Linked DNA regions of Homo sapiens: region 1 is linked to region 2. The links come from fine-mapping of genetic effects on gene expression. Tissue or cell type: pancreas. Region 2 holds a variant in brackets; the other region holds the start of a gene. All regions are shown on one strand. Distances are from middle to middle. Region 1 holds the start of SLC25A21 (solute carrier family 25 member 21). Region 2 overlaps SLC25A21 (solute carrier family 25 member 21).

Evidence for each region.
Region 1: SLC25A21 starts here. The variant in region 2 is fine-mapped to the expression of SLC25A21 in pancreas (GTEx, PIP 0.94).

The regions. Positions count from the first base shown.
Region 1 is chr14:37,170,252-37,175,643 of GRCh38, reverse strand. It overlaps SLC25A21 (solute carrier family 25 member 21), which reads left to right and starts at 3,038. Exons shown (of 10, transcript NM_030631.4): 1 at 3,038-3,363. The coding sequence starts at 3,294. SLC25A21-AS1 (SLC25A21 antisense RNA 1) reads right to left here and starts at 3,618. Exons shown (of 1, transcript NR_033240.1): 1 at 1,850-3,618. RefSeq lists enhancers at 2,765-3,343, 3,344-3,923.
Region 2 is chr14:37,064,515-37,069,906 of GRCh38, reverse strand. All of the region lies in intron 1 of SLC25A21 (solute carrier family 25 member 21), which reads left to right. Among named protein-coding and RNA genes, the nearest start is that of SLC25A21-AS1, 100 kb to the left of the region's middle. The variant A/G (reference allele first, on the strand shown) is at 2,496.

The sequences.
Region 1 (5,392 bases), 110 kb before region 2:
AGGCATAGATGGGAAAATTGCTTGAGTCCAGCAGTTCCAGACCAGCCTGGGCAACATAGAAAGACCTTGTCTCTAAAAAAGATTGTTTTAAAAATTAAAACAAAACAAAAAACCATAGCCTAACAAATAGAGGGCTCCTAAATTATACTTACGTTCAAATTAATACCTTAGCCGAATACTCAGTGTTATTTTGGGGGAGTTACTTAATCTCAGTGCCAGAGTTTCCTCCTTTGTAAAACAGGAATGAGATAATGGATTACAAAATGCTTAATTAGCCCAGTTTCTGGGAGAAGGTAAAGTCAATGAATGTTGTTACTACAATTGACTAGATAGGTTGAATATGGCCTGAAGGTTGCAGATTGCTCTTTACTTTCCTAGAACCTCCCCTATTCTCCCCAAACAATCCAATTATCTTTTAATATGTTATTTCTAATCTGATATGAAACAAGAAATCAGATATCCACCCTTTTAAAAACTGGTTCTAAAATTAGTTCTAAATGGATTTCTGCATGTTGATGGCTTAGAGGCTTTCTTAACTCCTAGATTCCCAGTTATGTTCCTGAAGGGTTTTTTTAGCCACTTGACAAACGATAGGGAAGTCAATAATCATGTAATTATCAACCAAGATCAGCTAAATAAATCAATAATTTAAAGAATATAATCTTCATACTTTAGCAGTTTTGCCCCATTAGGATATCACATCACTATTCCAAATAATAATAGAACAACAATGTAATAGAGGCTAGGGAATCTGAAATAGGTCAAGTAAATATTACCATTGCTTCCCAGTACTAAATCTTCCAGCATTCCAATATTGGCCATGAGCAAATTTAGCTGCAGATAAGAATTACATTCCATTATCAGAGCGTTTAGCACAGTGAGTACTTATTGGCTCTGTATTGACTCTTGTTAACTCCCAAGCTCTAGAATGTTCTCATGCCTAGGCCCCATATCCTCTAGTATTCTAGAGGTATAGGACTGGATTATATGTGATATCAAGTCTTGCTTTTTTCACTCAAAGATATCTCTTCTAGTCTGGAGAGGTTAAAAAGAGGAAGTAACTTTTTAACAAGGATAACTGGGAGTTTTCCAACTGAATCCACAGAGCTTTTTAGAGGCTGGGTCTTAGACACAAACTTGCTCCCACCTACCATGGATAAGATCTTCAGAGGGGAAGACACTCATGGAAATAATTATGTCAAAAGATTGTCTTTAAATCTTGACCTAAAAGTATTATTGCATTTCCTGGATAACGTAGGGAAGGCAAAAATTTACTTACAAGGTGGTAGGATCTCCTCCATTAGATTGTAAGTGCCACAGGGAAGGGATTTGTAGTGATATTGTCAGTACCTAGGCAAGTGCTAACACTTAGTGAGCTCTCAGTGTAGAATCTGTTTCAGTGTGTGCACTAGGGTTTAATAGTTGTGACCAAATTTTTAAAAACTAAAAAAAAATGGAATTAATTTGTGGGGGTATTTGTGTCACAGAATGTAGTTTTTTTAGCCTGTGGTTAATATTTAAATCTACAATCCAATGCTATCAAAAGAAGGAGTCCTGTGATGGAATCCCAGCTATACTATTACGCCTAGTGTGATCTTGGAAAACTCAGCTTCTGCTTTGAAAAATGAGGAAAACATTTTCTATGAGCTCTGAAATTCTGTTTCTATACCTAGTATATAACAGGTTCTCAATATTTGTTGAATAAGTGATTCTATATTGCACTCAAGATTCCCTATTTAATTAGTAAAAAGTCTGAAAGATATTGCTCAAAAGCCTTTATCAAGTTAGCAAAATTTCTGAAAACTATTTCTTGGTAAACATTTTCAAACTTAGCAGTTTTAATCAAATATTTAATGAAATGAAAAACTTTATTTTTGTATATCTGATCACATAAGCAGCAAGTCTCCCCAATTCCTCAAGCACTTTAAATAATTTTGCCATATATCACTGATCAACTTTTAATGACTCAGCCTAAGAAATAAAAAATCAAGTATGAAACCAAATTATTGTACTTTGTACATTTGATTAGAAACCACATAAATTGAACCATACTAAATTGCTGATATTCAACGGTTTTTGACCTCCAAAAATGGCAATTTTTACATGGCTCACACTAAATATATTTAGCAATAAATAATGTGTTTTAAGAAATATTACAATAGGGCTTCTAAAGCCTCCCAATTCTCTCTTTTACTCTTATCATCTCCTGTCTGTTAGGGGTGTGGCAGGTATTTTTGGAAAATTTCACAATCTTATATCTCTCCTACATAACACAGGCAACTTGTAGTTTTAAAAGAGTATAAATTAGTAGTTTTGTTTTGGTAACTATCCTAAGGGGCTAGTAAGAATAATCAAACATTTTATTGAGAGAATATACTGTTAAGTTCCTTAATGTTCCTCAATTGTTTAAGTCAGTGGTTCACAACCTTTAAAGTTCATGACAATCAACAGAGAACTCGTTTCTGGGCCCTATCCCCAGAGATTCTGATTCCGTTTAGGTCGGGGTGGGACCCACGAATTTGACTTCCTAACACATTCACAAATTATGCTGATGCTGTGGGTACTAAAACCACTTTTAAGAACCACTGACCTGGGTATAGAAGAAACTATTTGTAACCAGGCTTTTTCTTCTTTTGGTCCTTAGGTAAATAAAACTCAAGTTGATGAGGTATGATTTTACCTTAAATCAAAACCATTTTTGGTAAAGTACTACCTTAGCTCTATTGTAAGGTAAGTGTAAATTAGATTTGCTTTGACTTAGTTGCTACAGACCACAATTATAGGACAACTAACTGAGGAATTTATTCACTTGTCCCTTCTTTTGAACCTCACTGTGCTCTGGCTTGCCAGGAGGTGCAAGTGTCGTCCCCGCTTTGTACTTGGCGCTCCAGGCCTGGGTCACTTCACTTGAGTTATCAGAGGCAACCGTCTAGTTTGACAAACTACCGGAGGCTCCTGATAGAGAAGGGCGTGGGCGCCAATCTAGGAGACAAAGCCTGAGCCGCTGCGGTGAGCCAACCCAAACCCATCCGCGGGTCTTCTTTCCAGAGACATTTTCGGAGCCGAGGGCGCCTCTGCGAGAGCGCTGCGAACAGGTTCCGACGCGCCGGAGATCGCGCGACGAATCTGCGCCTCGAACCCTCGCTTTCCAGCAGTCGCCGGATTGCTGCTCCACAGGGAGCCAACGCGCTTGAGGACCAGCCCAGCCGGGGCTCTCTGGATCAGTAGGCTGTGCAGGCTGCGAGCTCGTTGACGCATCTCAGCCCACTCCCTTGTCCTCCCGCCTGGCGAAGATGTCCGCCAAGCCTGAAGTCAGCTTAGTGCGCGAGGCTTCTCGGCAGATCGTGGCCGGTGGTTCTGCAGGTAAGGACAGCCCGCCCTGCCCCGCCGGAGGCTAGTCGCTTTCCCCACCGCGTGTCCTGAAACCGTTGCCCAGACAGGTCTCCTTACTGAAGTTCTGCCCTCTTCCTCAAAATTCAGCGCTCCCGGAGCAGTGCTTGAGCCCCTAGAGGCGCGAGAGCAGAGGAGGCCGGGAGTTGATTGCGAGTAGTGGGTGCCCCAAGTAAAGTTGCCTCGGCGTCCGCGCCGGCCGCTCTCGGGTTCCCGGCATTGTCCGTTCCTAGCCTGTAAAGCAAGTGGCAGAGCCCCAAGGGCAGCGACTTTGAGGCGGTCTTTTTGCCTTGCTACCTATTTTACTTGAAAATGATCCAGTTCGGTCTGACTTAGTTTTATCAATTGTAGAGTCTTTCTTCAAGCTCGCTCAGGTCTTACATAAATCCTGCATTCCTCATCAAAGTACTTACAGGACTCCACAGGACTTCTTATTGCATACTGTGCTTGCTTGGGGATATTCGTGCCTTAAATAAGGATATTAAAATTAAATGCATATGTAACACACATAAACACCTTTGATATAATGGGCTCACGTTAATTTATAGAGTTATGCTGTGGGGAAAAAATAAACCTTTAGAAAAAAATGTTGTAATTAATCTTAGAAATACTTTTAAATGTAGCTGGAGAAAGTTACTAACCACGACATGTGTTATGTGCAAGTATTTTAAAGCTATTTTAAAATATAAATTATGATTTGGTTTAAAATTTTATCTTACAGTCATGCATTTTTATTATAAATATATAATTAAAATAATTGCCATAATTGGCTCATAACCAGAAAACATTTTATAAATCTAGCCATTCTTTCAATAAATTATAGTAACTCTAATAAATCCTGTTAAGGCAATGACTAGAAAATGTTTAATGTTTAACTTCGACTAGTAAAAGTTTCTGTATTTTCAAACAAATTTGGACTTTTTGTAAGGGATTACTGCAAATTATGACTGGTTATCATTATGTCATGATCTACTTGCATCTCAGGAGTAACGTAAGCAGCCACGTGTCACTTACAATCTGTACACTTTCTTAAAGATGGTATTTCATCAATATCACATTAGAGCCATTCATTGCTTACAGGAAATTGTAAAATCTTTCCCCTCCCCTCCCCACCCCTCCCCTCCCCTCCCCTCCCCTCCCCCCTTTTTCTTTTCGATGGAGTCTCTCTCTGTTGCCCAGACTGGAAGGCACCGGAGCTGGATTGCCATGGCGCGATCTCGGCTCGCTGCTCCAACTCCCGGGTTCAAGCAATCCTCCCATCTCAGCCTCCTGAGTAGCTGGAATTACCGATGCGCATCACCATGCCGGCTATTTTTTTTTTTAATTTTTTTTGTAGAGACGGGCTTTCGCCATGTTGCCCAGGCTGGTCTCAACCTCCCGGGCTCAAGTGATCCTCTCACTGCAGCTTCCAGAGTAGCTGGGACTACAGGAGCCCACCACCATGCCCGGCTAGTTTTTTGGGGAGGTGGGGGAAGGGGATTTTTTTTTTTGTAGAGTCAGGGTTTCACCATGTTGTCCAGGCTGGTCTCCAACGCCTGGGTTCAAGCAATCTGACCCCCTTGACCTCCCAAAGTGGTGGGACTACAGGCGTGAGCCACCACCCGTTATTATAATTGCAGTGGCCCCACTGCTTGCTCTTTCAGTTTTCCAATTGTGATGATGAATTTGCACCAATTTATTTACCATTTTTGGTCAAATTCCGCAATGCCTAAGGTTCTGTCTTCTGTACCTGACTCGTTGATTTGTAGTCTATGACCCTGATGAAAGAAAACTCAGCTAGTCCAAAGAGAAAGTGAGGCCAATTGATTAACATCCTAAGCTAAGACTGATGACTCATAAGCACCTGTATGCTAATTTATATGATCATACTATGTATTAGGCACAGCTAAACTCAAAGAATGTTAAAAGTAGATCATACTCGGCCAGGCACGGTGTCTTACGCCTGTAATCCCAGGACTTTGTGAGGCGGAGGCAGGCGGATCACCAGGTCAAGAGATCGAGA
Region 2 (5,392 bases):
TCTTTTTCATAGACCACCATGTTGCTTGTGTCAAGCCTTTTCTTGAGCAGAGAACCAGGGTTTTGTCTGCAAATTAATGCATAATAAATGAGACCCAGCCATTTGTATAAAAAGCAGAAATAAAAGTTTCCTTTAAGCTATTTCCTTTTAAAATGTTCCTGGAAAAGGGCCTCTATTCTTTTATTTAGAATAAAACTGGAAATGTGGTAGAAATATTTTTGTAGTAATTTTTTTTACAAATAAATTTTATTGGCATTCTTTGCTGTCTCTCCCAGTATGAATTAGTTCCTTGCATGATTTACTTCTGTTTTCAACGAAGAAGGCTGAAACTGATTAAAATTAAAACAGCCTGCAGTTCTATTAGGATGCATGTGGTACTGTTTCTCACCTTTTATCTTCTCTGATGATAATCATATATTTTTTCTTTCACAATATGCTGGCATGTTTTTAAAGGATGTCTACGCATATGTTCCTAAACACATATTTGTACACACATCAAGGATAGAGACATAAATATCATGAGGGCATAATCTACTGTTGCCACAGATACTCTATAATTTATCACAACCATGTTATACTCTCAGTAATTTATCTTATGAGATGGTGGGTGCAGATGGGTGCTCTTGAAAACCACACCCCTGAATCTGAAAAAGAATCAACTAATATGGTCGTATGTTTCAGTGTCATAAACAGTAATAAGAGAAGTACCTTAAGTTTTTTTTTTTTCTTTGAGATGGAGTCTCACTCTGTTGCTCAGGCTGGAGTGCAGTGGCATGATCTCGGCTCACTGCAAGCTCCACCTCCCAGGTTCACGCTATTCTCCTGCGTCAGCCTCCAGAGTAGCTGGAACTACAGGCTCCTGCCACCATGCCCGGCTAATTTTTTTTTGTATTTTTAGTAGAGACGGGGTTTCACCGTGTTAGCCAGGATGGTCTCGATCTCCTGACCTCGTTATCTGCCCGCCTCGACCTCCCAAAGTGCTGGGATTACAGGCGTGAGCCACCGCGCCTGGCCAAGTTGTCTTTTTAAAGAGAAAAATTGCTTTTTTTAGCTTATAATGTTTGGGGAGTCTCAAGAATTGAAAGAAAATATGATTGTGCTCATAGATCTTTTTCTGCCATATTATTTCTTTATGATCTTTATGCCTGTTACATGGGATGTACATATCAGGTGTTAATAAGTCAATTTGTATAAATACATTCTTCAATTGAGTACTACCCTTTGTAAGCAAGTAAGCAAAGAATTTGCACTGAATTATTAGCATCTAGCAATGTTTTTCCAGACAAGTGACTAAAATAGATTTAAATCAATTTACAAAATTACATTGCATTAAATTTTGATACTAAATGGGTTCAGTATAGCTATGTGATGCAATTATACAAAATGTGTTAATGTCAAAGAATACAACCAAAATTACAGCAAAACACATATAACTCTTTCCAAAACATTCATTTAATGAAAATCTACTGCAAAAAAAATCATCATACCTTGAATTGTTATAGTGCTTTCACAGTTAAGACACTCTTTCCTCTGACCCACAGAGAACTTTGTGTGAATTATCACACCCATTTTATAGACAGAGAACCTGGTGTCAGAGAGGAAAAGCACTTTAATCACTGTCACAAAATATCTCCTAGTTGGCTTCCCTTTCATCAGGCATCTTTCTTCTGTTCCATTTACCATGTGGCTGCCAGAATGACCTTTCTCCTGCTTAAAATCCTTCGGAGCTCCTTATTCCCGGTATGATGGACAAGTCCACAATGTGGTGACTATGAACCCTGACTCTGCTGTCGCGGCCTGTGTTCAAGTCCGGGGGTTGGCAAACGTTTCCTGTAAAGAACCAGATAGTAAATATTTTAGACTTCATGGGCTATACATCTGTGCCACCACTATCCAGCTTTGCTGTTGTAGGACAAAACAGATGGTGGGCTAGATTTGGCCTGCAGGCCATAGTTTGCTGACTCCTAATTTTGTAATAGAATCACTTAGAATACGGGAAGAAGATATCAGAAGTTCTATTTATATTTTGTTCTTAATCCTATCCTTTTAAATTATTTTTGTGCACATTTTATAATATACATAATATTTTCATAAATAAGTAAATCTACATGTATTCTGAGCACATGCTTAATTTTAGTTTTTACTGATAGGATTTGTATTTGATAGAGTTGAAAGACTAACTCTCTGCTTCACCAATCTACAGCCAAGCTGCTGGCAATTCCCTGAACACACTAGACTATTTTCTGCCTCCATACTTTTGTTCATGGAGTCCTCTCATATATTTACTGCTTTTTTTGCTTGTCATTACTTCTTGCATCTCAGATTTTCCATCTGGGATCACTTTCCTTCCGCTTGTAGTATATCCTTTTGGAATCCATTTTGTCAGGGTCCGATGATAGAAAAAAAATCTCTTTATTTGTCTGAAAACATGCTTATAATAAGGATGCATTTTCTGGGTACAGAATTCAAGGTTGGCAGTTATTGTCTCTCAGTAC[A/G]TTTAATACCTATGTATATAATTTCACAGCATCTTTTGGCTTTTGCTGTTGTTTTTGTGAAGTCAGCTGTCAAACTGATGCTCTTTAGGAATAATCTGTCCTTTACTTCTGGCTGCTTTTACTTCATTTTTTGGAGTAATGCAGTTTTACTCTGATGTTACTACAGGTTCATTTCATTTTATTTGCCTATTCAAAATTCACTGGGATTCATAAATTTGCGATTGTTATATTTTAGTAGTTCTAAAAAATGGTTAGTTCTTCAAATTTTGCCCCTCCTGCTTCCCCATTATTTTTCTTCTCTTCTTCTGGAACTCTAGTTAAATATATGTTACTCCTTAGCCCATTAAGCCTAATCTCTCTTTCGTATTTACATTTTTTTCCCCACTGTACTGTATTCTGGATAATTTCTTCTGCCCCATTTTTTAGAGTGCTAGTATTTTCCCTCATCTATGTCTAGATTGTTGTTGAATCCATTCATTCAGGTCTTTTGTTTTCTTTTTATCTGAAAATAATTTTAAACATTTAAAACTTCTAGATAAGTTGAAAAAGTAAAACAGTACAAAGAATACTTCTAAACTTATTATTCAGGTACATCTATTATCAATATTTTATGCCTTTATCTTTATTGTTTGTTCTCTGTCCTTCTCTCTCTCTCCATGTGTATATAATTTTAAATGTAAATATACATACTTATATATACATGTATATACACACATATACTTTTTAAATGAAATATTTATATGTGTACTTTTTTATGAACCATTTGTTGTAAATTACATACATCATGGTCCTTAACCCCTGAGTACTGCAGTGTTTATTTCTGAAGAGTAAGGATATTTTCATATAGCTACAGTACAAGTATGAATGTAAATACTTTTTGCATGGTAAATTTTAATTTACCACTTAAAAAGTATTAGTACAATGCTTTTTATTTCATCTGTTCACATAATCCATTTTTTCAGTTGACTCAGTGATGTCCTCGATATCATTTTATTCCTCTCCAGTGCCATGTGCAGTGTAGAGTCAGGTATTGCATTTAGTTGTCATGTCTTTGAAGCCTTTTTAAATCTGGAGCATTTTCTTAGCCTTATTTAGTCTTTCATGGCATTTACCTTTTGAAAGACCAAAATCCCCACTCTTACCTTTTAGAAATAGAATATTCCTAATAGGGGGTTTGTGTGATGTTCCCTTATGATTAGATTCAAGTTACACATTTTTGGCAAGAAGACAGCCTTTTTGATACTGTATTTTTCTCCGAGTGTCATATCTGGAAGTGTGGATACCAATTCTGATGAATCGGTTAAGTTACCTGATTTCTCCACCATCTAATTTCTTTTCCTCTCCTCTCTTGAAACTAATAAGCAGCTTGTGGGTTCGCACTTTAAGATTATACGAATATCCCGCTCCTTATACAAATTTTCCCTCAGATTTGGCATTCACTGATGATCCTTGCCTGATTAAATTTAATCTTTACTACAATCATTGTAAAAACCATTCGTTTCAAATTAGTTTTATTTCTCAATTCAAAAGAGTGTTCAATTCCTTTCAAATCTGCTAAGGCACATTTTGTTAATTTTTTTCCTCTTAAATTTTATCCCACTTTTTATTTCTATCTTTAAATATAGTATGCATAATTGTTTTACCATATATGTCTAATGATTCAATATCTGAAGTGTTTGAATGTACCCTTCTTTAAGTGATGTAAATTCAGTCTGCACATTGGCTCAAGGACCACCTTTTAGTTACAACTTCTCAGGGACATTCCTCCTTAATCTGCTCAGCAATAGACAAATTTCCTTAAGTCCCCTGGTGTTGGGAATGGAATGGAGTAGGACTTCTAATTTGCCCTTTCCCTGAGGGTGTAACCCTTTGGGGAAACAGTTTAATATAGAGAAGCACTTCAATTTGTCTCCTCACCTGCATGAACTGAGCTTTGATGTTGGTTTCTTCTCAGCCTGAGAGGTCTACAATTGACAGATGTCTTGAGCCAAAATAATCTCCAGAGCTCGGTTCACCTCCCTGAGCTCCTGCTTCACTTAGATTTTAGCCTGGTTAAAATACTTTCTTGTCAGCTTTTTATTATTTTAAGAAGATGCTTTTGTACCTTATCCAATATTGTTGTTTTCAGTGGGAAGTCTGATCTGAATAACCTAGGCTACCATGTTTTGTCACAGTATAATCTCTGCATTCAGGGTTCTTCTGTACCCCTCACACACTCCTCAGCTTTCAAATCTCAAGTGTCACCTCATCCATAAAGGCTTCTCTGAACAAATCCTTTCCCCAAAGTACCATAGATTATTCCTACTCCAGTTGGTCCCAGCATATACATATATACTGTATTTCACTTCATTGTATGGTTTGTTTGTTTTGTTTTCCTGTCAGTCTTTTCCAAATAGACCATAAGTTCCTTAAGAGCAGGTAATGTGTCTTATTTACTTTTGTATCCTGGGGGTTTGGTAGAGTAGCTGGCATATATTAGGCCCTTAACAGATGTGTGTCAAAGGAAGGGATGAAAGCAGATCTGCCTTCCCAATGTTCTATACTCTTTTGAGAATATGCATGCCTTGTCTTTATGTCCCTAGTGCTTACTACAGTGTCTGTCTCATAGGTGTCTAATAATTATTTTTGGACAAGAGTTTTTGTCAACCTGGAAGTGAAATAGGATAAGGGACAGAATGAGCAGTACAGTAAACCAATTGAGAGACACAAATGAGTTAATTCATAGAATGGGGTGTTGGTGATGGTGGTAGCAAAAATGATAGAATAACTGTGAGTCCTGAAGGGGTACAGTCTGGTTTGTGTATCCAAACAGAAGCAGATTTGGACTGTTGTGAATTCACAATTCACAGTTGTTTGGGGATCCAGGCTAGGAAGGAGGATCCAGATAGAATACAGAG